2 separate regions of the Homo sapiens genome follow, and region 2 is linked to region 1. The links come from fine-mapping of genetic effects on gene expression. Tissue or cell type: whole blood. Region 1 holds a variant in brackets; the other region holds the start of a gene. Each region is shown on its reference strand, or each on the opposite one.

The links. PIP is the estimated chance that this variant, and not a neighbour inherited with it, causes the effect. A credible set is the group of variants that fine-mapping cannot tell apart.
Region 2: TNFRSF18 starts here. The variant in region 1 is the best candidate, but not a certain one, in a credible set for the expression of TNFRSF18 in whole blood (TOPMed, PIP 0.67).

What each region holds. Positions count from the first base shown.
Region 1 is chr10:92,689,225-92,692,117 of GRCh38, reverse strand. It overlaps HHEX (hematopoietically expressed homeobox), which reads right to left and starts at 2,163. Exons shown (of 4, transcript NM_002729.5): 1 at 1,771-2,163. The coding sequence starts at 2,131. RefSeq lists an enhancer at 45-852 and silencers at 1,383-1,532, 1,543-1,622, 2,043-2,362, 2,433-2,672. The variant C/A (reference allele first, on the strand shown) is at 1,642.
Region 2 is chr1:1,205,084-1,207,976 of GRCh38, reverse strand. TNFRSF18 (TNF receptor superfamily member 18) reads left to right here and starts at 1,385. Exons shown (of 5, transcript NM_004195.3): 1 at 1,385-1,592; 2 at 2,485-2,607. The coding sequence starts at 1,406. RefSeq lists a silencer at 2,602-2,802.

The DNA.
Region 1 (2,893 bases):
AACTAAATCCAGACATACCTTTAACCCCAAAAAGAATGGGCACTACCGGCTGGGCTTACAATACCACGACCCTCTTTCCCCAGTGGCTCTCGGATTTATACATAACTTTTTGCCCCCTTGGATCTCCCTTGGTGAGCCGCACTTGCGAACACCGGGTGTGTGCGTGTTGGGGAGGAGCGGGGCTGCTGCACCGACAAGGCCTGGCTGCGCGGGAAGCGCTCGGGCCCGGACACCCGCATTAGGTTGCGCGAGGAGCCTCCAATCCTGGCCGGGGGAGCCGCGGCCTCCTCTGATTTCACACCCAGCCCGCGGGGGCGGCCAGTTAAAGCCACCCCATGGGCTATGGCAACATTTCCGTCAATGTGTTTCCTGTTGGTCTAGCTCGAAAAACTCTTTGCTTCCTCCTGCGCGGTCCCAGCAGTAACCCAAGGAAACTCAGGGCGCACTGTGAAAACGTTAGCCCCCAGGCCCGGCCCGGCTGAGGGTCCCGCTCCAGCCCCGACAGGCGACCACAGCCAGGCTCGGGCCGCATCATCAAACCCTCGAGGCTGGAATCAGACAGACAGGATAACAACTCAAAAACATAAAAAGATGAACTAAAAATACAATCCCCCTCCCCTGTTAACGGTGAGAAGGTAAGGTAAAGGGCTGAGCTAGAGCCCGCGCCGTAATAATGGAGACATTAAAATGCTAATTAAGACGTTAATTGTTTTCAGGGTCCCTACTGAAGCTTCCAATAACAGAGTTCATTTAAAACTCTAGAGGCGCCCCGTTTCCTTATTTACCCTAGGGCTCCAGACCTCGAAGGCGCCAAGGGTCACCCACAGCGCGGACCACGGGCGGCTTATTTGTTAGGCCGCACATTGAGGGGACAAGCCCCGAAGTTCTGGAATATATGCCCTATGTGTCCCTGCTTCCCTTCCTAACTGGCGACCAGGAGCTGCTGCTTCCTACTCCCAAAGTAGTGTCGGTCGGTCCGTCCGTCCGTCTGCAGGCCTGCACCTCAACGCTTTGAAAGCTAGCATTGTTTTTTCGAGATTTTGCTTGCGTCAGGCTTCAGACTGGTGCAAAACAGCCTCGAAAAAAAATAGGAAGCAACTGGTTATTTTAGCTGCCATAAAGTCACATCCCACACAGAGGAAATGAACAATATCAGAAAAACGGATCCCGGCTATCAGAAGTCGAGTGTTTCCTGAATTTGTCTGTATTGAGGATGTCGATAAAATAATCAGCAGCGTGCACTACTCCGGGGGAAGGGTCTGCTTCATGCAGCCAGGAAAACACTTAACAGCTTCTGAAACCAGATTTACTCCTATCGAGAACTCAAGATTTCCTGTATGAACGGAAAGGGTCAGGCTCTTTCACTGCACAAGCCTGTTGAACCAGGTCCAGCCCCGTAGCCACCCGGGCCCGGCTGCGATCCCTGCCCCACGGGGGCCGGCCAGGGGCGCCTCGACGCCCCTTTCCCCGTCCCTCCCGCTAAGGGAGCCCCACCCCGGGTAACACGCGCGGTCCACGGCTGCCCTCGCCGCGAGGTCTACCGCCGGCCCGCGCGCCCCGACGCCTGCAAGGTGCAGGAAAACCAATCTGAGTCACGGTGCGGTCAGCCCCGGCCGCGCGCCTCCCGTCCCCGCGCGTGCC[C/A]GACAGCTGCTTTTCCATCGCTTTTGCCACAGCCGTCTACCGCCTGCCCCCTTCGCCCCCTCGGCCTCCCGGGCGCTGCCACCTGCCGGGTGGCGCTTCCTCGCCCCCACCCTCGCCCGGCCGCCTTACCCAGGGGGTCGTGGCGGAGCAGGGCGTGCGTGTAGTCGTTCACCGTCCGCGGGAAGGGGTACAGAGGGCCCCCGAAGCCGCCGGGTCCGTAGGCAGCGGCCAGCGCGGCGGCGGAGTGGTGCGAGAAGGCTGGATGGATCGGCGTGGGCTCGTACACCGGGGTCCGGTAGGGGGACACGAGGCTGGTGAAGGAGGAGTTGGGGGACGGCAGCGTGGGGGCGGGCGTGGGCGCGGCGGGCCCGCGGCCCAGGATGTCCTCGATGTAAAAGGGCGTCGGGTGTGCGGGTTGCAGCAGCGGCGTGGGCGCGTACAGCGGCACCCCCACGGCGCCCGCCGCCGGCCCGGGGTGCGGGTACTGCATGGCTCCGCCGCGCTCCGGCCCCTCGCAGAGCTGCTGGCCCGCGCCGCGGCGCTACATTTATCCGCGCTCCGCGCTCCCGGCGATAGGCTCCGCCGGCCGCGGGGTGGGGCCGCGCTCGCTGGCCCCTTCCTGCCGCCGGGCCCTGCGGCCAATGGCGCGGGGCCCCAAGAGCAGCCGCCCGCCCCCACCCCGGCCCGCCCCGCCGGCCAAGCTCCCCGCCCCCGGGACGCGCTTGCTACCAGGCTCCGGGGAACTGGCGCCCTGGTGCCCCGCCGCGGCTGTCGCCCCTGGGGACTCCAGGCACCCCGGCCGAGGACGCCCTCGAGGGAAGCCCTGGGCCGCGTCCGTCGGGGGAGGCGCGAGGAAGACCGCCTTCTGGAGTGCGGGCTCCAGCGGCCCTGTCCGCGGCCCCGAGGCACCTCTGCCGAAATTCGGGGGCGCCGTCCAGGCCTGGGCCCGGGGTGGCAGCAGCTGTTTCCAGGCGGGGAGCAGCGGGACTCGGCGGGAGCAGAGGCCGCTGGCCTAAGACGCCTCCTCGGTGGGTGCGCTCCCTGGATTAACAGTGGCGCTGGCTGTCACACCGGCCGTTTCCCGAGCTCAGAGCGGGACAGTGCCCTGGGTTCCTAGGGCTGCTCGGCGGCCCTTAGCTGCGGCCCGGCGGGATTCGGATGGCTGGAGTTCAGGTGCTGCGGACTCTTGGCCGCTCCACCTGGTTTCATTTGGAGGCCTCGGACTCAAGCCACTTCCGCGAGGATGCTGGCA
Region 2 (2,893 bases), not on the chromosome of region 1:
ACGCCTGGCTAATTTTTTTTGTATTTTTAGTAGAGACGGGCTTTCTCCATGTGGGTCAGGCTGGTCTCGAACCCCTGACCTCAGGTGATCCGAGGCCCACCTCGGCCTCCCAAAATGCTGGGATTACGGGCGTGAGCCACTGATGGCGCCTCTTTCTATCCAGGGGCCCAGACCCCCTCCCAGCCTCGGGGCTGAAGATCTCCAGGCCTCTCAAAGGCCCCCAGGCCCAGCTGGCCCCACCCCTTTCCTTCCGAGCGTCGGGGCGGCCTGGAGCTGCAGAGACCCCTTCCTTCTCTGCAGTGTCTGAGGGCTGCCTCTCCAAGGCAGGCTCCTACATCTTGGATTTGAGAACTCCGGGGTGTCACAAACAGCTAATTCCTGTCATTTACCTTGGAAAAGGAGGAACCGCCTTACGGGGTGAGGCGGTGGCTGCAGGTCTCAAAAGGGTGTTGAACCACATCCACGCTCACGTTCCCGAGAGCCCCCACCCCCAGCATTCATGGGGGTCTCCACCTGTGCTGGACGGCGCAGAAGCAGGGCTGGGCAATCCAGGGAGGCTTCCTGGTGGAGGCAGGGTCCCAGAACCCCTCGGTGCCCACAGGGGAAACTGAGGCTCAGAAAGACATAGGACAGTCTCCCAAGAGCTCTGCGAGGGGCTCCTCCTCAACTCCCTCCGGGACCTGGATCTGTCTGGTGTGACGGATGAAGGTGGCTCTGAGAGACCGGGCCCTGGGTGCCCGCGGGGGCGGCTGACACTGTCCCGAGGAGGCGCCAGCACCCTCTCGTCTCCCCACCAGCTCCTCCTGGTGCCCCTCCCAAGCCCCGGGGAACTTCCCAGGTTGGCCTGAGGGGGGTCCTGGAGAGCTGCAAGCAAGGGGGAGGGGAGCCCACAGGCCTGCAGCCCATGGTGAGTTTCACACCTGAAGCCAGCCAGGTGGGGTGTGCTGAGCCGAGGGGTCCCTGTCCCCATTCTGTGGGGTTCCCCAGCACGGGGCTCCATGGTTGAGGCTCTCTGGGGGTGGCCAGAATTTGTGGAGACCTCTCGGGGACTCGCAGATACCACCCGGAGGCAGTGGGATGGAGGAGTGATTGGCTGACCCCCGCCCTCCAAGGGGCCCCCATGGGACAAGGTGCTATAAACGCCGCCCCCTGCACTGGGGACACCAATGTGGCCGCAGACTTTGCATAGAAAACCTTTCTGATCCCCGCCAGCCTGGTTTCCCCGCCCCTGCCGGCGACCTGCGGGGGACCGGGCTGTGTCCGCAGTGTCTACACCCCCTCCTCACACGCACTTCACCTGGGTCGGGATTCTCAGGTCATGAACGGTCCCAGCCACCTCCGGGCAGGGCGGGTGAGGACGGGGACGGGGCGTGTCCAACTGGCTGTGGGCTCTTGAAACCCGAGCATGGCACAGCACGGGGCGATGGGCGCGTTTCGGGCCCTGTGCGGCCTGGCGCTGCTGTGCGCGCTCAGCCTGGGTCAGCGCCCCACCGGGGGTCCCGGGTGCGGCCCTGGGCGCCTCCTGCTTGGGACGGGAACGGACGCGCGCTGCTGCCGGGTTCACACGACGCGCTGCTGCCGCGATTACCCGGGTAAGTAAACCGCGTTTACTTAACGCGGACCGGCCAAGGCGTCCCGCGGAAGCCGGGATGGGTGGGCGCCCCCCTTCCCGTGCTCAGACCGGCGTTGCTGAGGTCTAAGGAGGGTGGGCACAGAGCCGCCAGCAGCGGGAGCCTTCCGGAGGGAGGCAGGATCCCAGAGGGAGGCGGAGGTGTGCCAGCTCCAGCCAGTGGCCCCGGCCGGGAGCAGGGGTGAGCCAGGTGGGAGCGCCCTCAAGAGGGGTCTGGGGTCTGGAGGTGGAGGACGGCTGTTCCAGGTCCTGCTGGGCGGGTCGTGAGCCCTTGGCCATCGCCCAGCCCCCTCCTGCCCAGTTGAGGGCCCCCCTGCACCACCGTCTGGCCTGCTGCCTGCCTCTGACCTGCACCTGGGGATGAGGGTTCAGCTGACACGGCTGGTCTGGAGAGGAAGCTGGCAGGGAAGTCACCCCAGAGCTTCTTCCTCCAGGGCCTGTGGGTTGGGAAGGGAGGCTCTGTCCGGAGGCCCAGTGTGGCTGGTGGTGGGGACAGCAGCGCCCAGACACCAGGCAGGCGGCCTCTGAGGTGTCGACGGGCCTCCAGGGGACTGTGCACTGTTGGGGGCCACCCCTGGGTCCTGCAGGGGCAGCTCCTGGTTGCATATGGAGTTAGCACCTGGGCAGGGGCAGCTGTGGGGCGCAAAGGGGGAGTAGCCAGGCCACATGGCCCCAGGAGAAAGAGACAGCTGGATAAACCCAGGGTCCAGACTCCCAGCCAGGAGCCCTCTGCTCCCTGGAGCCAACTGTGGGTGGAGAACGGACAACCTCACTCCCCTGGAGGGCCGAGGGGAGGCCTGGGGAGGAGGGGGCCTCAGCCCAGCTGCTGGGGGGCTGGCCTGTCTCCTGCCCAGGCGAGGAGTGCTGTTCCGAGTGGGACTGCATGTGTGTCCAGCCTGAATTCCACTGCGGAGACCCTTGCTGCACGACCTGCCGGCACCACCCTTGTCCCCCAGGCCAGGGGGTACAGTCCCAGGGTAAGTCCTGGAGGTGCCTCTGGGAGTCCACACAGGCCAGGGGTTCCACTAGGGCCCGAGGCAGAGCTCGTGGGCACAGGTGTCCGGCGAGGACATGTGGTGTGTGGGGTCCGGAGTCCTGTGAGGCCGGGCAGGCCAGGCCATGCTCAGGCACCACAGGCCATGAAGCTCTGGGGGTGTCCTGTCCCTGCTTTCTCAGCCTGGGCTTCTCCATCCAGCACGAGGGCTGTGAGAACCCTGCGGGGAGGTGGGGGCGGGTTCCAGGAGCTGTCTGGCTCTCAGGCCC